Homo sapiens: one gene and its partners. The protein of the gene in region 1 interacts with the protein of each later gene in a pairwise test. Each region holds a gene or a part of one and is shown on either strand. Other genes may lie near its edges.

Evidence for each region.
Region 2: the proteins of SLC30A4 (region 1) and TNFRSF10C interact in binary tests that used the Homo sapiens proteins (3 or more experiments, as listed by UniProt).
Region 3: the proteins of SLC30A4 (region 1) and SERP2 interact in binary tests that used the Homo sapiens proteins (3 or more experiments, as listed by UniProt).

Annotation. Positions count from the first base shown.
Region 1 is NC_000015.10:45,505,253-45,513,075, forward strand, and holds part of SLC30A4 (probable proton-coupled zinc antiporter SLC30A4), read right to left. Parts: intron 6,033-7,823; coding exon 5,886-6,032; exon of another isoform or gene 5,884-5,885; intron 3,759-5,883; coding exon of another isoform or gene 3,697-3,758; exon of another isoform or gene 3,606-3,696; intron 1-3,605. UniProt on the Homo sapiens protein: Probable proton-coupled zinc ion antiporter mediating zinc import from cytoplasm potentially into the endocytic compartment. Controls zinc deposition in milk.
Region 2 is NC_000008.11:23,105,510-23,112,920, reverse strand, and holds part of TNFRSF10C (tumor necrosis factor receptor superfamily member 10C precursor), read right to left. Parts: intron 1,202-7,411; coding exon 1,096-1,201; intron 1-1,095. UniProt on the Homo sapiens protein: Receptor for the cytotoxic ligand TRAIL. Lacks a cytoplasmic death domain and hence is not capable of inducing apoptosis. May protect cells against TRAIL mediated apoptosis by competing with TRAIL-R1 and R2 for binding to the ligand.
Region 3 is NC_000013.11:44,376,413-44,383,823, reverse strand, and holds part of SERP2 (stress-associated endoplasmic reticulum protein 2), read right to left. Parts: intron 4,184-7,411; coding exon 4,111-4,183; intron 1-4,110. UniProt on the Homo sapiens protein: Interacts with target proteins during their translocation into the lumen of the endoplasmic reticulum. Protects unfolded target proteins against degradation during ER stress. May facilitate glycosylation of target proteins after termination of ER stress.

The sequences.
Region 1 (7,823 bases):
AAAGAAAGAAAAGAAAAAAAAAGGCTACAATCAATAGTCCATAAATAAATATAAACCAATCTAAAGCCTACAGAGAATGTGATCTTTTAAAGCAGAAACACATCCATATAACAACTAAAATGGCAATTACAGCTAAGCTATGGTTTGATATTTACTATTGTCAGATAGAGTGTAAAATTTCATTCTTCAGTGTAGAAGAAATTCCCAGGAAATCTAATTTTCTGCTTCCTCATGCAGAATCCCAAGACAATATCCTGTTTTCAATTTTTATTCAAAAGGAGCAAGGGAATATTACTTCTATCTGAATAGTTAAGTGGTTGTTCTCCTCCTTTAAGCTCTGACATTTTCAAACCAGAAGCTTCTATGTACTGTTATAAAGTGATCTGGAGGTGGAACTCTATATAGAATCACTGCCTCCAGGTCTAGAGTTGAGTATACAGTATACTGCCTATTGCATAAAAAAGGGTGGTGAGAAGCAGGATATGAACATATATATGTATTTGCTTATGTTTTCAAAAGGAAGTGCTGGAAGGATAGGCTAGAAACCAATTAAAAGGGTCTACTCTTATGGAATGGTATGGGGAGATGGAGTGGAGGGGAATGAAAGCAAGACTTCTCTGTGTTTTCTTTTAAAAAATAATTTTTGGCCAGGCATGATGGCTTATCTCTGTAATCCCAGCACTTTGGGAGGCCGAGGCGGGTGGATCACTTGATCTCAAGAGTTCAAAACCAGCCTGGGAAACAGGCTGCAGAGTTTGCAACCAGCCTGGGAAACAAAGCCTCGTCTCTACAAAAAATACAAAAGTTAGCCAGGCATGGTGGTGCATGCCTGTGGTCCCAGTCCCAGTCCCAGCTACTCGAGAGGCTGAGGTGGGAGGATTGCTTGAGCCTAGGAGGTCAAGGATGCAGGGGGCTGAGATCACGCCACTGCACTCCAGCCTGGACAACGGAGTGAGACCCACTCTCAAATAAATAAATTAATAAAATAAAATTTGACTTTTGCAACATGTTTTGCATATTTACAAAATAAATCAACAGAGAAAAAACCCATCCCTGTCCCACCCCACCATGTCATCAAAACAAAACAAAATTCAACAAGAATGGTAACAAACCAAGCTTCTTGTGGGGATTCCCTCTGTGAAGTTTTCAGGACCTGAATCTCCAAGTCTGGAATTAGAGATCACAAGAGCTACCCTACTTAAGTGTGTCCAAATGTAAATATATCTCTCCCCATAGAACTTCAAGAGATTACTCTGAAGCAATGGTACTGTGGAACTCAGGGACACCAACTGCTTTGGTTTACAGCTTTATTCATCAAATTCTATGTATCTTTGAATCTTCCTCAAGCAAACTAAGTTTTTTCTTCCAAATTTCCACCATTATTTCATAGAGCAGAATAAGTGAAATAAGGTCTATATCTAGATATCCCCTCATAATATTTCAGAATACAAAACAACAAAAAAAAGAAGATCCCAAAAGTTTCAGTGTGAAGCTTGAGTACCTTCTTAGCTCAGGAAATACCTATCTATCTATATCTTTAACAATTCCCTCCCTTTCATTTTTTTAGATGACTTTTAAAAATTGACATAAAATTCATGTAACAAAATTCACCATTTTAAAGTGTACAATTCAGTGGTTTTCAGTACATGTACAAGGTTGTGCAGCCATCATCACTACTAATTCCAGAACATGTTCAACACCTCAAAAAGAAATACCATATGCATTAAGTGGTTACTTCTTTTTATTTTTTAAGTTCTATTTTTCTGAGGTTCTTAATAGTAAGGCTTGGCTGGGGGCGGTGGCTCATGCCTATAAACCCAGCACTTTGGGAGGCCGAGGCGGGTGGATCACGAGGACGGGAGATCCAGATCATCCTGGCCAACATGGTGAAATCCCGTCTCTACTAAAAATACAAAAATTAGCCATGAGTGGCGGCGGGCCCCTGTAATCCCAGCTACTCTGGAGGCTGAGGCAGGAGAATCACTTGAACCTGGGAAGTGGAGGTTGCAGTAAGCCGAGACCGCGCCATTGCACTCCAGCCTGGGTGACACAGTGAGACTCTGTCTCAAAAATAAATAAATAAATAAATAAATAAATAAATAAATAATAAATTTCAGGAATAATTTTAATTTCAAAGAGCTATTTCTTGTATTTATTTTTCCAAAACATTTTACTGTTTTATTATTCTGAGCATATTAATAAGATAATTTAAAAACTTTTCTCCTGGTTCTGTTCTTTTCTTTTTCCTTTTTTTTTTTTTTGTCTCACTCTGTTGCCCAGGCTGGAGTGCAGTGGCTTGATCTTGGCTCACTGCAACCTCCACCTCCCAAGTTCAAGTGATTCTCATGTCTCAGCCTCCCATGCAGCTGGTATTACAGGTGGGCACCACCATGCCCAGCTAGGTTTTGTATTTTTAGTAGAAACAGGGTTTCACCATGTTGGCTAGGCTGGTCTCAAACTCCTGGCTTCAAGTGATCCGCCCACCTTGGCCTCCCAAAGTGATAGGATTACAGGCATGAGCCACCATGCCCAGCTTCTCCTGGTTCTTTAAGTTACTTCTCTTTCCTTTAGGGTTAATTTTTCTATTAGTTTAGTTTTGGTCATTTTAATTCATGGTGCTGGTTTTTCCCACATGCTGGAAGATTCTTGGTTGTCTATTCATACTTAGGGCAGAAGGATAGGGAAACTATCCTTTGTAAAAAGGAAATGCTGGAAGGATAAGCCAGAAATGAATTGAAATAATATTTTTTGGTAGAGACAGGGTCTTCCTATGTTGCCCAGGCTGGTCTCGAACTTCTGGGTTCAAGGGATCCTTCTGCCTCAGCCTCCCACAATGCTAGGATTGCAGGCATAAACCACCATGTCCAGCCTAAAATGGTTATTAATATGGGGTGTAGGGCAGGGCAGAGGATAACTATATTCCTTTAGGATGAGTAGGTGGAGAATCAGGATATGAGGTGGTAGAAATCTGAATTCTGGTAAAAGTAAGACTTATTTTGGAGCATCAACTTCCACACTAATTCTTAGTTTTCCCTGAACATTTTGTTCAGTTTCTTTCTAGAAGAACTATGTGGTGTTTTACTTGGCGGAAAGTGTAGGCTGCCTGAGTAGAGGTAGGAGTAAGAAGGGAGGTAGGGGCATAGTGACCACTGGGAACGGCTTCCCACTTATTCAATTAATCTTCCGTTTTCAGCCCCAATTCTCATTTCTGCTCATCTCTGTCCCTAAGCCTTAAGATCTGTTGGGCTGGTCCAGTTCCTAGTTCAGAGTATGTTCTACACATTGCTTCTTGGCTTGTTTTCTCCTTCAACCCACTCATATGTACTTTACAACTTCCAAAAATTTCTGGAAATGTGTTTACTGGTAACCCAATCATGTAATTCTCTTTGGTGTTTTGGTACCTCTATGTTTTTATCTTAATGGACTCTCAGAGAGACAGGAATCAAATGGTGCTGTCTGGTCTACCTTCTTGGAACTTAGTACTTTTAAGGAAAGGGAAAGATTTGACTTTCTATAGAAAATTCCAGAGACACAATAGGACCGGTCAGTTCTATTGTCTCTTATTTTTACATAGTATTTATTTATGAAGAAGCAAAGTGACTATGTAGAACAAACACTAAGTACTTCTTTAATATTTAATAGAAGTTTCATTATTATGGGTTCTTAACTTATATGTGTAGCATCTTCTGTGTTCTGTTATTGCATGTTTCTGAGGGAGTGTTTCACTGCTTTCATCAGAATTCCAAAGGGTTTATAACCTAAAAGAGTTTAAGAACCACAGGACTATATAAATGTACTCTCTCAAGCAGTGTTAAAAAAATTCCCATTCCATGATGATATGTTTACATCTTAGATCTTAACTGCAGGTGTTTAAATCTCAAAAAAATTAATGTTTAAAAATAATTTTGAAGCTGTTTAAAAATCCTAAGGCAACCAGTAAACAAATGACTATATAATATGTTGAGAAGCAGTGGAGTTTCCTTTAGGAACACATTCTTTTTTTTTTTTTTTTTTGAGAGAGACAAGAGTCTTACTCTGCCGCCCAGAATGGAGTGCAGCAGCATGATCTAGGCTCACTACAACCTCCGCCTCCCGGGTTCAAGCAGTTCTTCTGCCTCAGCTTCCTGAGTAGCTGGGATTACAGGCGTGCACCACCATGCCCAGCTAATTTCTGTATTTTTAGTAGATATGGGGTTTCACCATGTTGGCTAGGCTGGTCTTGAACTCCTGATCTCAGGTGATCCGCCCACCTCGGCCTCCCAAAGTGCTGGGATTACAGACGTGAGCCACCGTGCCTGGCCAGGAACACATTCACATGCATTATGCAGTAGCTTAACAAAAGAAAAACTTCACTTGGGGCTTTAGCTCTTTTGTACAGTAGCTGAGAGTACGGAGGGGTGGGGATGCTAGATAATTTTCCAACCTGATGACCTGGATAGCTACTTGGAATATCACCATTTAGGTACAGTGTCAAGTTTTGCACCAGAAGACCCAGTCACTAAGTAAGAGGTCCTGGATGCTGTGGGCCAGTCATGGCAGCTCACACCTGTAATCCCAGCACTCTGGGAGGCCAAGGTAGGAGGATGGCTTGAGCACAGGAGTTTGACATCAGCCTGGGCAAAGGATGACCCCCTTGTAGGTAGGCCCTGTCTCTACAAAAATCACAAAAATTAGCTGAGCATGCTAGTGCACGCCTATAGTCCCAGCTACTCGGGAGGCTGAGGTGGAAGGATCACTTGAGCCTGGAAGGTGGAGGTTGTAGTGAGCTGAGATCACACCACTGCACTCCAGCCTGGGCAACAGCGCAAGAAGATCACACCACTGCACTCCAGCCTGGGCAACAGTGCAAGAAGATCACACCACTGCACTCCAGCCTGGGCAACAGAATAAGACTCTGTCTTAAAAGCAAAAACGAGAAATAAATTCAAAGAAAATGTACGTAAAGAAACAAAAAGTTTACTGCACTCCAGCCTGGGCAACAGAGCAAGACTCTGTCTTAAAAGCAAAAAACAAAAAACAAATACAAAGAAAATATAGGTAAAGAAACAAACAAAAAATCTACAGTCTAAGTTTTTTTAGGCTAAAAAATAAAAAAGATGATGAGGAATTGATTGATATATTAGCCAGGAGCATCAGTGTTCCTACAAAATGAAATTATCAGATATTAACTCTAGTTCTTTGAGGCAAGTTTTGCTGAAGCTACTTAAATGTCAACTTTTGGGTTCTACTTTTGAGTCTGACATCTGGGTAAATGTTACTTCATATAATAGTTCAGGTAATTATTTTATACATATTTTCAAAATAAGCAAAAAATTTAAAAACAGTAATACAGTAAGAAGCAGAGCTGTGTAGATAGCAATGTATGATTTTAACTCTTTATAATTAAACATTAAAATTTGTTCAAAACAGGCAAATAAAAATGTGTGCATTTGCAGAATTATGTTGATACGATGGCTGCAGTCAAGTTCAGCCACACAGCATACATTATACCTGTGATAGCTCTGCTTAAAATCTAAGCTATGGTAGCTTTGGCTGAAATACCTGAAGTAAAAGAGAGAAGCTAATGCTCATTAACGGGTTAAACCCATGTGGTTTTGCTTTGTTCAATAAACTGAAAGTAAACTTTTTTCTGATGATATCTTCAGGACATAGGGAGCAACCTTTGAAGATTAATGATCATCATATAATTTTATATGTGTAAACTGTTTAGCTGACTAGGCTAAATGTACCCTGGAAAAGATGTTTCTGAATAAATTTTGTTTATCTATTTTCATTTGCTTTGTTCAAACAAGATATCACTGGAACGAGTTCAGTTAATCAGGGTTATAGTTCATTGTGGTTTTACTATAAAATATTATAAAGCAAAAGAAACACCAACTACCTACCTAAGCGATGAAATCCAAAGGTGAATCTTTTGGTTGGTGATTTTGATGATAGCCACAAAGCAAGCAGGGTGAGTATGATGGCGCTTAGGTCAGTTAACATATGAAGTGCATCTGTCATGATTGCTAGGCTATTTGCAATGTATCCACCTTAGAGTTACAAGTAGGAGAAAAAAGGAACAAGTTAATTTTTTAAAAAAGCAAGCAATCAAACTAGAAATATGCAATATCCTACAAAACATGAACTTCTAACTAAATCTTTATCCCATTACAATTAAATCAAGGTATTCTGAAATTTCATTCAAAATATTAGATATAGGTTCATTTTTCTGGTGAGAATATCCACTTCTTTTTTTCTTTTTTTTTTGAGACAGAGTCTCACTCTGTTGCCCAGGCTGGAGTGCAGTGGTGCAATCTCAGCTCACTGCAACCTCTGCCTTCTGGGTTCAAGTGATTCTTCTGCCTCAGCCTCCCGAGTAGCTGGGACTACAGGCACGTGCCACCACGCCCGGCTAATTTTTGTATTTTTAGTAGAGACAGGGTTTCACCATGTTGGCCAGGCTGGTCTCAAACTCCTGACCTCAACTGATCCACTCGCCTCGGCCTTGCAAGTGTTGGGATTATAGGCGTAAGCCAATGTGTCCAGCCAGAATATCCATTTCTAGTAACACATGCTGCAAGGAGTCAATGACCTTTAGAAAGTTAAGAACCACAAGGCAAATATATAGTGATTTTGTGTCTTGGTACTGAAGCTTTTGCTTAACTTACTAATTCTACTATTAGTGAATTAATAACCATATCTAAATATTACAACAAAGCTGAAGAAAAGAAGGGTGTTCACTTGTTGAGGGGCGTTGGAACATAAAATTAAACTGAGAAAACCTACAAAATGTACATTAGTTCGATATAAAATATGTAAAAATTAACTGATTCACTTAGCAACATCTCTGAAGAGGGGTACAAAAGGTAGTATTTAGGATACAATTTTTGTTATCGATTTTCCAGGCATTTAATATATATATTATACATTGTTTCATTGTGTGTCTGTATTGTCCCATAATGGACAACCAATTTTCCTAGCACTATTCACTGAATAAGCTTTTATGTGTATCAGAATCACCTGGAGGGCTTGTTAAACTACAAACTGCTTAACTCTACTCCCAGAATTTCTGATTCGGTAGGTCTGGGATGGTGATGGGGATGGGACCTGAGAATGTATATTGCTAACATGCTCCCAGGTAATGCTGATGCTTCAAGTCTTGGAACCACACTTCGAGAATCACTGTTATAATGTACAGCAGAACTGCATGATCAGGTAAGTGTGCTGAGCTGTTGATCCTCCTCATTCCTGAGCTGGGTGTGTAGAGACAAGAGCAGGAGACTAGGGGCTGATGATCTTTTAGTCACATCCATTTACCCCAGAGTGCTCTATACAAATAGCATTTTTATGTATTCCCCGGCATGAAAAAGCTGGAAAGCACCAAGAGAAGGTTGGTGTTAAACAACATGAAGTTTTGGAATCTCAGAAAGTCTGAATGAGTTAATTTTTTTGAGCTTTAGCATACTTATCATTTTATAATGAGGATAATTCCTTAAAGCAATTCTGTCCAATAGAACTTTGAGATGATAGAAATGTTCTGTATCTGAGCTGTCCAATGGTGTAGCCACTAGTCACATGTGGCTTTTCAGCATTTAAAAAATGGCTAGTAAGGTTGGGGCACAGTGGCTTATGCCTGTAATACCAGCTGTTTGGGAGGCCGAGGTGGGAGAACTGCTTGAGTGTAAGAGTCTGAGGCTGCAGTAAGCTTTATATAATGGCACCAGTTCACTCCAACTTGGGTGACAAGAGTGAGACATTGACTAAAAAAAAAAAAGAAAAATGGGGCCAGGTGCAGTGGCTCACGCCTGTAATCCCAACACTTTGGGAGGCTGAGGCAGGCG
Region 2 (7,411 bases), on another chromosome or scaffold:
ATTAGTACAGCCATTATGGAAAACAGTATGGAGGTTCCTCAAAAAACAAAAAATAGAACAACTATATGATCTAGCAATCCCACTATTGGGTATACATCCAAAGGAAATGACGTCAGTATATTGAAGAGATATCTTCCCTCCCATATGCATTGGAGCATTATTTACAATGGTCAAGACATGGAATCAACCTACGTGTCCATGGATGGATGAAAAGTTAAAGAAAATGTGACACATAGATACAATGGAATACTATTCAGCCTTTAAAAAGAAGGGAGTTCTGTCATTTGTGTCAGCATGGATGAAGCTGGAGGATACTATGCTAAGTGAAATAAGCCAGGCACAGAAAGGCAAACACCTCATGATCTCACATATGTGGAATCAGAAAAAGTTGGTCTCATAGAGGTGGAGAGCAGAATGGTGATTACCAGGGCTTGAGTTGGATGGTGGGATGGGGAGATGTTAGTCAAAGGATACAAAATTTCAGTTAGACAGGGAGAATAAATTCAAGAGATGTATTGTGTGACATGGCGACTACAGTTATTAAAACAATGTGTTGTACAGTCCTGCCTTCTATCCACAGGGAATATATTCCATGGAACAAACTCTGCATATACTCAAGTCCCTGATATAAATTGGGATAGTATTGCATAAAACCCACGCACATATGCTTTAAATCATCTCTAGATTACTTGTAATACCTAATGCAATAGACATGCTATGTAAATAAGTGCTATACTGCATTGCTTTTTATCTGCTTTTATTGATGTATTATCATTTTTATTTCTTCCGCATATTTTTGATCTGTGGTTTGTTGCAACCATGGATACAGAACCCATAGATAAGGAAGGCTACAGAACCCACAGATAAAAAGGGCAAAGAGGGCTTATCCCAGGGCTCTGTATCCATACAGCTGAAAATTGCTGAGCAGATTTTTAAGTGTTCTTACCACGAATACATGATTAAGTATGTGAATTAGCTTGATTTAGCCATTCCACAATGCGTACATATTTCAAAACATCATGGTGTACATCATAAATACATACAATGTTTATCTGTCAATTAAAAATAAACTGATTTTTAAAAATAAGAGTGCACCTGCTGGACACTCCTCCCCCTTGAAGCTGTGCCTCTGTTGCTGTGGGGCCACTGTCTGCTGGGGAACTTCCTCCTGCCGGGCAGTGGTGGCAGAGTAAGCTAGGACCTGTGGGGACAAAGGAGTGATGGGTGTGAGTGACTTCCAGACCTCACCCCTCCCAGGCTCCATCTCACATTCCCTTCACCCCAAGTGACAAAACCCATCAGAGCTTGGACATTTTTTCCAGCTCCAAACTTTCATTCTTTCATACCTGTGTTTGTCCCTTGGCCTGTTAGGGCCAGCTATTTTCTATAAAAAAAAAAAAAAATACAGGCAAGCGCGATGGCTCAAGCTTGTAATCCCAGCAATGTGGAAGTCTGAGGCAGGTGGATCACAAGGTCAAGAGATCGAGACCATCCTGGCCAACACGGTGAAACCCTGTCTCTACTAAAAATACAAAAATTAGCTGGGTGTGGTGGCACACACCTGTAATCCCAGCTACTCAGGAGGCTGAGGCAGGAGAATAGCTTGAACCTGAGAGGCAGAGGTTGCAGTGAGCCAAGATCGCGCCATTGCACTCCAATGTGGTGACAGTGCGAGACTCCATCTCAAATAAAAAAAAAAAAGAAAAAATGAAAAGAAAAAGAAAAACACTTATGTATCCTTTTCTCATATTATAACATAAATTTACCCCAGATAATGGGAGCAAGAAGAGCTATTTTGTTTTTTTGATACAGAGTCTTGCTATGTTGCCCAGGCTGGAATGCAGTGGCTATTCACAGGTGTGATCATATCTTACTATAGGCTTGAACTCCTGGCCTGAAGTGATCCTCCTGCTTCAGTCTCCCAAGAAATGTGGATAAGAGGCACATGCCACCATGGTTGGAAAGAAAAGATTTTATAAGAATTTTAAAAAACCACACACATATGAGCCCTTCATGCAGAAATAGCATTTAATATATTTAGTTTCACCAAGTGTTTAATTGACCAATAGGTGAATTCTGTCTCTCACTCACACACACACAAATACACACAGACACACACTTAAACATACTCAGCTTTACAAATGAAGGTTATAATATATATAACCTTACAGAAAGTCAGGATATAGCATCAAACATTAAGTAATTAATTACTGCTTTACAAAGGACCTTGTCAAGCTGCTCCCACTAAATATCAAAGAGTGACAAAAAAGATGAAACAGCAATTCAGGGATTCTGGCCATGATCTCTATGTTATAAATGACAACTAGAAGACAACTGGAGAAATCGGAATAGAGTGCGGATAGATAGTGGTAATGTGTTGATGTTAATTTCCTTGTTTGTAGAAAGTACACACTAAAGAATTCAATAATAGCTTTCATCATGCCAACAGCCATTTTTTCAAATGTTTTTATTGTATAGTTTTTGTAACTTTTCTTTAAGTTGGGAGTGTTTTAAAGTAGGAAATTAATTTAAGCAAAACCAAAATGGTTACAATGAAAGCTGCTTATGTTGGGCTCAGTTCAACTGCCTGGATCTAAACAAGACAAAATGTAGCTTTCTTCCACATCAAAGCCTGACTAGCAGTTGGTGACAGTGAAGCTAACCCACTTTTCCCAAATCATTCTTTCCCGGGTTGGAGTCCCTCTAGGTTCAGGCGATGTCTGCGTCTCCTTTCTCTGCTCTCACACTCTTACTCCCTCTCATTTAATGAGGGGTTTATTAGTGTTTTTTAAAATCCTTTCAGAAGACCAACTTTTCATTTTGTCTTTTTTTTTTTTTTTTTTTTTTTTTTGGAGACAGGGTCTCCCTCTGTCCTCCATGTTGGAGCGCAGAGTGCAGTGGTGTAATCTCGGTTCACTACAACCTTTGCCTCCTCTGCCTCCCAGGCTCAAGTGGTCCTGCCACCTCAGTCCCCAAAGACAGGTGTGTGCCACAACGCCCATCTAATTTTCACATATTTTGTAGAGCTGGGGTTTCGCCATGTTGCCCAGAGTGGTTTAACTCCTGAGCTCAAGTGATCTGCCTGCCTGGGCCTCCCAAAGTACTGGGATTACAGGCGTAAGCCACCGCACACAGTTGGTTTTCTCAGTTCTTTCTGTGGTTTGTATTCTTTGATTTATGCTCCTTCCTGTTACTTTGTTTGGTTTAAATTTACACTTATATTTTATGATTGATTAATGTAGCTCCTCAGGCCATAATTTTCTTTTTCTTTTTCTTTTTTTTTTTTGAGATGGAGTCTCGCTGTCTCCCAGGCCGGAGTGCAGTGGCACAATCTCGGCTCACTGCAAGCTCCACCTCCCAGGTTCATGCTATTCTCCTGCCTCAGCCTCCCAAGTAACTGGGACTACAGGTGCCCGCCACCACGCCTGGCTAATTTTTTGTATTTTTAGTAGAGACAGGGTTTCACCGTGTTAGCCAGGATGGTCTCGATTTTCTGACCTCGTGATCCACCCTCCTCGGCCTCCCAAAGTGCTGGAATTACAGATGTGAGCCACCGTGCCCGGCCCATAATTTTCACGTTTTTTCTTTTTTTGACAGCTTTAGTGAGACACAATTCACATAATTAATAATTATGATTATTCATATAATTCACCCATTTAAAGTCCACACTTCAGCAGTTTTTAATATACTCATAGCTATGCAATCATCACTATAATCAATTTTAGAATATTTTTATCACTCCAGAAAGGAACTACATACCCTTCAGCAGTAACTCCCCATCTCCCTAACCCCCAGTTTTTTAATACAAACATTGAAAGCTGTATATTTCACCCTGAGCACTGTTAGCTATTTCGCACCACTTTTGATGTGTTATATTGTCATTATTACTTACTTTGAAATATCTTACCTTCCCTTTTGATTTCCTGTCTGAACCACAGATTTTTAGAAGTGTGTTGTTCAATATCAAAATTTTAGAATTCTCTGTGGATATTGTTACTGATTTCCAGTTTAGTTTCATTAAGTTTAGAGATCATATTGTGTGTTTTATAGCCCAGAACCTGGTCTATCTTGGTGAAAGTATCATGAGCATAGAAAGGAATGAGTGTTCAGTGAATGTTCCACTCCTGCTCTTTAAATGTCAGTTAAATCAAGGTGGTTGATAGTGTGCAGATCGCTTGCCACTTTACTGGCATTTTCATCTAATCATGCTAGCAAGTGCAGAGAAACAGCTGAGTTAATCTCTTTTTAATTCTATTTTTGTGTCATGTGTTTTGAAGATGTATTACTAGGCATATACAATTTGTTGTTATTATACTCCTTGAAGAATTAACCCTTTTAACTACAAAGGTCCCTTTTCATCTCCCATAATATTCAATGTCCTAAAATTGTCACAGTAGGCAGCTAGTTAGGTATGAGCAGGACAGGAGAGGGGTCCCCGCTTCTGACACCAGCAGTGTTGGGCGACCATCAGGTAGTTGATAACTGTGTCTCTAAAGTAATAACTGGTTACAGCCGATGCCAGAAAAAAGCAGTTTCCTAATACATAGAAAACACTTGAAACTGATCAGCAGCTTCCCAATAAGATTTCAGGAGTGGGGAGAAGTAAGGCAAGATCCTGGAAGTAGGCCAACCTATAAAACCCCAACTCAGGCGGTCCGGCTGCGTACTGTTTCTCAAGTCACCTGCTTGGCCATCTTCCAAGTGTACTTTCCTTCTTTTCTTTCTGTTCCTTCCTTTCCTTCCTGTTCCTTCCTTTCCTTCCTGTTCTAAAGCTTTTTAATAAACTTTCACTCCTGCTCTGAAACTTGCCTCCATCTCTGCTTCTGCCTTATGCCCCTCAAACCAGTTCTTTCTTCTCAGGAGGCGAAGAGCTGAAGGTGCTGTGGACGCATACGGATTCGCCGCCTTCAACGTAGGGTAACTCGGATCTCATCCACCGCTAACAAAATCAACTTCATCTGATACTGAGATAGCCATGGCAGTTTTCTTGGCCTTACACTCTGCATGGTGTATCTTTTTCCATCTATTTACTTTCAACAGACAACATCTGTGTCTTCCTTTTAAGGCCCATCTCATATAGACAAGATATAGTTGAGTCTTGCTTTCTCAGCCCTTCCAAACATTTCTACCATTGAACTGTAGTGCTCAGTGGATTTACAGGGAGTGCAATAATTGATATAGTTGAAATAGACCTGTAAGTTTACCATTTAAGCTATGATTGTCTAGTCTAATTTTTTTACTCCTTTTCCCCCTGCACATTTTAATGTTAATTACCTTTTAGAATTCCATTTTAATTGGATAAACTGACTTTTTATGCATACCTATTTCCATGATCTATGTGCAAGTGCTATAGGGAATACAGTATACACTCAAGTGTTTACATTCTATTGAAGGTTTTTTAAAAATGGATTCATTGAGGTATAATGGGCATGAAACAAAGTGTACATTTTTGAAGCATGTAGTTTGGTAGATTGAGACGTGTGTATACATTGTGGAACTACCACCACGATAAGAAAATGACATGTCCACCACACCCCAGAATTTCTTCATTCTTCAATGTAATCCTCTCTTCCGCTTTGCTCCTATGTCCCCAGCAATAATTCTGCTTTTTGTCAGAATAGATTGGTCGAATTTTAATGAGAAATGGAATCAGATGGTAAGCATTCTGTGTGGATTCCTTCACACGACATAATTTTCTGTGTTTTTCTGTTTTTCTGTTTGTTTGGTTTTTTGTTGTTGTTGTTGTGACCGGGTTTTGCTATGTTGCCCTGGCTGGTCTTGAACTCCTGGGCTCAAGTGATCTGCCTGTCTTGGCAGGACTACAGGTGTGAGCCATCGCACCCTGCCCACCCTGGTCAATTGACTATTATGAATTAAAGGCTATTGAAAAACAACAGGTGCAAGAAGATCCTTTGACCTCTTTTGTGTTTCCTAAAAGCAGGAGATGAAAGTCCCCAGGGAAACATAGGACAATCTCCTTTTTTTTTTTTTCTGAAAGCTCTGCTTCCCAGGTTCTCACCATTCTCCTGCCTCAGCCTCTCCAGTAGCTGGGACTACAGGCACCCGCCACCACACTCCGCTAATTGTTTTGTATTTTCAGTAGAGACGGGGTTTCACTGTGTTAGCCAGGATGGTCTCGATCTCCTGACCTCGTGATCCACCTGCCTTGACCTCCCGAAGTGCTGGGATTACAGGCGTGAGCCACCGCACCCAGCTGACAATTTCCTTATTTTTAAGGATGAGAAGTCGAGGCCAAGAGGGTACTGTGCAGACCATGTTAGAATGGATCCACTCTCATCTTTTTAGCTCCTCACATAGTTACTTGCTTCTTCATGAGTTACTTGGTCTAATTCAGTAAATAAGTAACTGACTCTCACAGGTTCTTCCATGCCAGGTAAAACTTGAATTAAATAAATGTGTGTGCTTGTCTCCTGTGGACCTCTCTTAGGTGAATCAAATTCTCAGGCCCAGCTAAAAAAAAAAAAAAAAAAATCGGGTGGGGGGGCATCTAAAGGAGAGCTTCGCTCCCCTCCCTGACCCTCAATGGTGACTGTAATCAAACCACATCTTCCAGGCCAACAGTACCACATCCTATGGCCCTGCAACAGCATGGCCTCTCTCCAGCACAGCCTCTCTGGAGGAGGGGGAGGCAAGGGTAGTGAGATCTCAGGCCTCCTTCATGCTACCTCCTATTAGTTATATAATCCCTGGGTCACCTCTCCCACCACACTGCGGGCTCCAGGGAACAGGATTCACATGGGGTTCATTTGTCCTCCCAAACTCCGGCGGACTCCAGGCACAGGTGTTCTCAGAGTAAAGGGCTCACTGTTTACTTCCTGGATGAATCACTTTCCCCTCAAGCCTATGAAGTGCGCGCAGTTGTGGCCTCAGCTCAAGGCCGAAGGACAGGCTCCAAGAGCCCTGTGAACTCTGCTGAGGAACCATAAGAGCTCCCAGAGGCCAAGGGCAGGACAGAGATCAGAGAAGCAGCTGCTCAGAGAACTCTAGCCCTGAATCTCATTTTACCACTTGTAAAACAGGAAAAACAACCTACCTTCATCTCCCCGGGTTGTTAGGAAATCCACTACATGAAGATGTGCATTCTCTGGCTGGAAGCAGGATACCAGCTGCCCAACGGCAGAGGCTCGGGGCATGGCACTGTCCCCACTGTCCCCATCCCTGACCTAGAAGCTAGAGCCTCACTGCCCTGCCACTCCTGGATACACGACAGAGGACCAGAACTGGGACTGTGGCCTCTCAGTACAGCCTGGGTGAGTAGCCATCTGCAGCCACCTGGATGGAGACATTTCCTGCTCACTCTTCAAACTACAACCCGGGCCAGGCGCCTACCAGAAGGACAACTGGAAGCATGGCAGGTAAACCAGGCTGTGGCCCTGCAGTGCCATCGCTG
Region 3 (7,411 bases), on another chromosome or scaffold:
ATCCCAGCACTTTGGGAGGCCAAGGTGGGCGGATCATGAGGTCAAGAGATCAAGACCATTCTGGCCAACATGGTGAAACCCCGTCACTACTAAAAAAAAAAAAAAAAAATTAGCTGGGCATGGTGGTGCGTGCTTGCAGTTCCAGCTACTCAGGAGGCTGAGGCAGGAGAATCGCTTGAACCTGGGAGGTGGAGGTTGCCGTGGGCCGAGATTGCGCCACTGCACTCCAGCCTGTCAATAGAACGAGACTCTGTCTCAAAAAAAAAAAAACAAAAAAAACGCAAACCTCCAGAGAGGTGGAGCTAACATACTCAATCCCTAGGAAACTGCTGGAGACCAGGAGAGTTCTAAAAGATGCTTGTTAGCAAATGTCCCAATTTACCCAAGAGGGAAAGATACAGGTCCTGCTGCATGGGCTGGTAAGCCAGGCAAAAGTTTAGGCCATATAATAGTTTTTTAAACCCTCCAAAAAGGAAGAGATGGGTTTTGAGAGTTGGCATGGGTTTGAGAAAAATAAGCCACGCCAAATGACTCTACTGGCTTTTTCCCTTATAGGCTGCCTAAGGGGGCAGACTGGAGAAGGCCACAGTTACTGTGTATCTTGAAGCCTATATATATCTTTATCTACTTAGACCCTTGACAATACAGGTGGCATGGTCACGGGGCTCAGGGATGCCTGAGAGTAGGCTTTGGCCATTCTGAGCACCTTATATTCTTGAGCCCAGCACATTCTCTGAAGCCACCATGCCACCGCCACATAGTGTTCCCATGCAGAATCACCTTCCTCACACCCTTTGTCTGGCTGTTTGTTCTTCAAGACTCCGCTCAAACAGCACCTCCCCTTGGAAACTTTCTCTTCTGCTGAGTATGATTTAGAAGTTCCTTATCCATGCCAGCCAAGCACCCTGTAAACTCTGCTGTCACTATCGCAGTGCGCTTTCCCTGGGCTGCAACTGACAGCTTCCTTATCTGCCTCTCCCAATGCCTGCAAGTACCCAAACAGGATTGTATTTCCAAAGCCCGGCACAGTGCCAGGCACAGAGGGGACCCTCAAGACATGATGATTGCTTGAATGAGTTTTGCTTAGAGGCTCAAAGTCAACCTGAAAGAGGTTGTCTCTGATTGTGTTCTGTGGGTTTCTCCAAGTCTAGACTTTTATCAGTGACTTGGAAGAATAATATATTTTCAGGGACCATAACACTGGGAAAAAAGGGTAAGTAGATCAGAGGCTTAAAGTTCAAGGTCTGACAATCTACAGACTGGTCATACAGCCTGAAAACATAGCTAACTTTTTTGTACAGGTTTATTTTCTTGATTTTCCTGTGGTATGATAAAGGCATAGTTTTGTTTGTTTTTATTTTGTTCTTTTTTTTTTTTTTTTTTTTTTGAGACGGAGTCTCGCTCTGTCGCCCAGGCTGGAGTGCAGTGGCACAATCTCGGCTCACTGCAAGCTCCACCTCCCTGGTTCACGCCATTCTCCTGCCTCAGCCTCCTAAGTAGCTGGGACTACAGGCACCTGCCACCAGGTCCGGCTAATTTTTTTGTATTTTTAGTAGAGACGGGGCTTCATCGTGTTAGCCAGGATGGTCTTATCTCCTGACCTCATGATCCGCCCGCCTCGGCCTCCCAAATGCTGGGATTACAGGCGTGAGCCACCGCGCCCAGCCTAAAATTTTAATAGAAGTAATCGTTCTTCTTTGAGAATAAAAAAAAAAGTCATAAAGTTTTATATTAGGTCTCAAAAAAGGTCAACTAGATATCTACAGTATGAGGAATATCTGGCTTTATCCATCCATCCATCCATCCATCCATCCATCCATCCATCCATCCATCCTAAGCACTAACTATGTGCTAAATACTAAACTAGGATCTACAAATTTAATGAAAAATAAACACTGTCTCCCCTGAGCTTATATCCTACTGGAGGGAAATGAACCTAAGTAAGTAAACTAAATAACTGCAACTGCTGATGAGGGTCATGAGTAAAATAAAATAATATGTGATGGAGACAGGAGAGACTTGGGATAAAGGGGTATGTAGATGTGTTTCCGGGGTTGCAGGAAGTTTATCTGAGGAAGAGCTGGGTGGCATCTGGCTGGCCATCAGCTAGACGTGAGTCAAGGATGTGCTGCAACTGTTAAAAAGTAACTGCAAGCCTGGGTCACATTAATAGAGGCAGAGTGGTGAGCAAAATCAAGGGCAGTGACAATCCTACTGCCTCTGTGGTGGTCACACTGCTTCTAGACCACCTTCTGCAGTTGCAAATGCTATACTTTTTTTTTGAGACGCAGTCTCGCTCAGTTGCCCAGGAAGGAGTACAGTGGCACGATCTCGGCTCACTGCAAGCTCCACCTCTGCAGTTCAAGTGATTCTCCTGCCTCAGCCTCCTGAGTAGCTGGGACTACAGGCGCGTGCCACCATGTCCAGCTCATTTTTTGTATTTTTAGTAGAGACAGGGTTTCACCATGTTGGCCAGGATGGTCTCGAACTCCAGACCTTGTGATCCTCCCCACCTCGGCCTCCCAAAGTGCTGGGATTACAGGCGTGAGCCACTGCGCCTGGCTTTTTTTTTTTTTTTTTTTTTTGAGACGGAGTTTCACTCTTGTTGCCCAGGCTGGAGTGCAATGGCGCGATCTCTGGCTCATGGCAACCTCTGCCTTCTGGGTTCAAGTGATTCTCCTGCCTCAGTCTCCCAAGTAGCTGGGATTACAGGCATGCGCTGCCAAATGCTACCCTTTAAGAAAGTCATTGAGCAGATCCAGAAGAGGAGTCTAGAAACCACATCTTATGAGGCAAGGTCGAGAGATTTAGGGAAGCTTAGTTTGCAGAAGGAGCCACCAGGCAGTCATCTTTAAAATATCTGATGATTCAAGGTGCTTAGAGGAGAACGAGTCCATTCTGTGTTACCCTAGGAGTTCAAATCTGAACAACTGAGAAGACAGCATAGTGTAATTCAAAACAGGAGAGACATTTCTAATAGAATTCCAGCAGACATGGAATAGGCTTTTTGAAGAAGTATTCAAATAGGGATTGGGTAAACAGCTGTTTAAAAGATGTCCTTAAAGATACTTCTTTGGGAATAGAGTAGAACTGTCTTTCTTTGAGTGTAAGATTTTCTCATCTTGGAATGCCAAATCATCTTTAAAATATTTGAGCCACAAGCAACAATAATGCCAAGTACTTTGGATCCTTCCTTCCTCCTAAGAGTTTTTGCTTCTTTGGAAGAGTGGTCTCTTGAAGATAAAAGGAACTGATCCATCTTAAATTTTTTTTTTAATTTTCATGATTTTAGGTTTGAATGCATGATTCATCTTTAGTCATGGGCTTCTCTTGTCATTGGGGCAGAGGCTGTCTTGCTGGGAGGCCTAAGCCTGAGCAGGAAGATGTGGACCTTCTGCCTCCCTGCCCTCAGTAACAGTGAGATGCTGGAGGGTGGGAATCCCTCAAGGCATGCTGTGTAGTTAGAAGAAGTGACCTCCACTCACAAGGATTTCTGAGACCCAACATATGGGGATCAGGAACCATGTCAAGGCTAGTTCAGCATGTAACTAGAAACAATGGCACGATGCTTCTGCTCATCTTCCCTGCATTTGTGTGTATGTGTGTATCTGCATGTGTGTAAGTAAAGCTCTCAACTTGCCACCTTACAGTATCAGGTGACCCATACCTTAAGGCTTGGGTCAAAGGCTCAGTTGTATCTAGGAAGTTGTATCTAGGAGCTCTGCAGAACTTTCTCATAAGGCATAAGGCCTCTCCCTTTCTCGGAATGTGGATTTATCACAGGCACACAGGTGTTTCACCTTCTGTTCTAATGCCCTTTTAAGGCTATGTCTGCACAAAAAGACTTTACTGAACTCTACAGTGTATACAGCCACTTTAACTACTCAGTGTAATCATTTTATGATTAGGATTTGATAGTGTATTAATTGTGTCTCTACCTATATTTGGAATAGAAACTAAATCAAAACCCATTAAGATTAAGGCTTAAGGCAGTGATAAACTTGAATCCCATACCAGTATGTTTTTCATCTATTTGCTTTGTGAAGAAAACGTGTGTTTTTCAAAGGCCAGTGGAGAACATGGGATATAAGTTCAGTGAAACACCCATACCTGAGCCACAGACAACAAAAACAAACAGTGCCAACAGCCATGGTCCCACAGGATATTTCTCCTCTTGCGGCCTCTAAAAGGGAATGGGAAAAAGTAAGATTAGGTTCATTGACTCAATAAACAATTATTTGAGTATCACTAGGCATTGTGCTAGGTGCTGGGGATTCTACTGCGAATGAGACAGACTTGGTTTCAATCCCTCAGTGGACAGATATAGATGAATGAAGTCCATTAAAAGGATTGAGACAGGTTTGTAAAAATTCATCCATAACCTTATTAACATCCCTGTAACTCAGTGAACTTGGTGGTCTTAAATATTCTGGGGACAGATATGGTATGAATACATAAACCAATATGGCGATTTAGGAACCAAAATGATATTAATAATAACTTTCCATCTGCTGAGTAATGCTCTGTGCCAGGCACTACACTAGGCAGTCTGCATTCATTATTTCTGGCAAGTATTATTATTTCCATTTTGGAGTTGAGAAACTGAGGCTCAAAGTTTGTTAACTTGAGCAAGAGCTGGGATTCAAATTTAGGTCTGCCTCATTATAAAGCCTGAGTATTTTCCATTAACAGATTCAATATTTAGTTTTTGCATCTGTGAATTCCAAGCAGGATCAGAGAGCACAGACATTTTCTGAAAACCTTTTACATAACCCCAAATTAGGAAGTCAGTACAGTGGAAATCCTTGCAACAACAGAAGCACCACAGCAATTGTGAATGGTTATGAGTGAAGCAGCATTTTGTAATAAAGCTCCTAAGCCTTAATAAAGCTTGCACTTGGGAGAAGTCTCTGAATTCTCTGGGAAGCAGAAGGGGACTGTCAAAACTGCATGAATGAAGCCCTACAGACCTCCTGCTTTTTCAAACCAAAAGCACAGACATAATAAGATCTTCCCTCCACAACACCTCCAGGTCTATGTGCAGGTAGGGCTTGGTCCTTAAACCCAAATCAGTCAGAACAACAAATATTTTCTGAGAGATGCATCAGAAAAGAAGTGAATTTCTCAAATAGAATGGGAGAGTGAAAAAAAAAACAACAACAAAGAACTCACTAATTATTTTCTGATTAGCTTGAAAAATAGGCTGCATTCAACACACGTTAAAGAATTCACATGCAAAACACACAAAGAAAAACGTGTTGGTAGAGTGGAATGTTCACAAGTATTGATTTGTGGTTGATCTCATAAAACCCAATTCCAGATTTCAATTAAATGTTGTTGACATTTAAACATTGTATTCAACATTGTAAAATATGGGCTAAAAGGTATGTTCATATCCATACAAATACCACAGCTTGACATTCAGACTGAAGGTATGTAATAGTGTTTCAAAAAAAACGAGTGGTGCTATCATCAAGGATGTAAGTTTTTGAAATGTTGAACAAGTTTTAGTAATGTTTCTAACAAAAACTTCTTTAAAAAAGGATAATCTTCCTTTGATTTTCACTGTAGTTGCTTTCCTAGAAAATTTATCATATATTAAAACTGTAAAATCTATGATGTGTTGTATTTATATGTAAAATTAAGTTCTAGGCTAATGTAAATGTAAACTGGCTTCTCATCTAAAAAAGGAATTTATTTTATCATAGATAAGGCAACAGTTCTTTAGTTTTCAGCTTACCAAAGAGCCCTTCTCTTTTACCTCACTTGGGTCCACTCGTCACTTGTATGGCCACATACTTTTTCTTGATAGCATGTGTCACAGTTTGTAGGTCTATATTTATTCTTGTGATAATTAATGTGTTTAATATCTGTCTCTCTATGAGACTACAGACCCCACAAGGGCAGGGACTATGTCTTGTTCATGTAGTAATATATAGAAATGCCTGCCACAGAACTTAAACATAGGAGATAATAAACGTTCATCAAAGAACAAATAAACATACAAGTTTCATTAAATAAGATTTCTTAGGTTAGGCAGAGTAAACACAGGTTCTAGGAAGGATATTGTCTTTTTAGTAATAATTCCTAATTGGTGTAGGATTATCCCTGTATCTCTCCTACATGAGAAATATGGATTAAAGTGTCAACGGCAGGTAGACTTTGACTAAGGATTAAGACATTCACTTCTCTGTCCTTGACTAAGCCTGTATCTACCACCACTTACATGCCGGCAAGTCACACTGCAAAGGAATCGGTGGCTGCTCTTAATCAGACGAGGACAAGATCAGTCTTAAATAATTGCATAAGATAACTGTGCCATTTTTTGGCCCTTAAGGCCAGGCCAAGTTCAGATCCGGTAAACAACATTCATAAAGCTACCTGAACAAAGTGTGACATTCGCCCTTCCCACCCTCTTCCACCACCTTCCCAGGAACTTGTCACAGTTGCCCAGAAACCAGTTCTGTTGCTGTTGTGCCACTGATGCTATATAAAAAAATTCATTTTATCTCTATTTCCAGCAAAGCTAATAAGTGAATTCAGAAGCCTGTAATGAATTACTTGCCCAGGACAGATACCAAATAGAGTCCTTTATTTTTCATATGCAGAAAAAACAGATGATCAGCATGTAGAGCTTGGACCATATAACACAAAAACCTTTTGGATGACATTCTCCATGGAATCAACATGATTTGGGGACTTTGGCTGATCATAGTACCCATATATCTTTTTTTTGACAGCTTTGGGTGACTACTTTTTAGAAGGGGTGCCCAGCACAATCCCATTGGGACAATTCACATAAACCTTACTCTATGGCTGGAAAAGGTGGGGAAAACTAGTAGTGATTCTGCAAATGACATGGTTTACTCCAAACATGAGTTTGCTACTTCTTGAGGCTCCAAAAATGTCAGGGAATGGCTTTCCCTGTGATTAAGATACCCGTAGGGTAACTCAGAACTCTGAAATTTAAATTCCCCCTTCATTCTGGAGAAGTTACTACTGTATAATCACAAAATGATTATTCCATTTCTCTGTTTCCTTTTTTTTTTTAGACGGAGTCTTGCTCTGTCACCCAGACTGGAGTGCGGTGGCGTGATCTCGGCTGACTGCAACCTCTGCCTCCCGGGTTCAAGCCATTCTCATGCCTCAGCCTCCTGAGTAGCTGGGATTACAGGCGCCCACCACCATGCCTGGCTAATTTTTGTATTTTTAGTAGATACGGGGTTGTGCCATGTTGGCCAGGCTGGTTTCGAACTCCTGACCTCAGGTGATCCATCCGCCTTGGCCTCCGAAAGTGCTGAGATTACAGAAAGTGCTGAGCCACCACGCCCGGCCTTGTTTCTTGGATTAGTCTGCTATCTGGGAGAATAATATTAATTTATCCGTAAGCTATTAGCTAATAATAAAATAC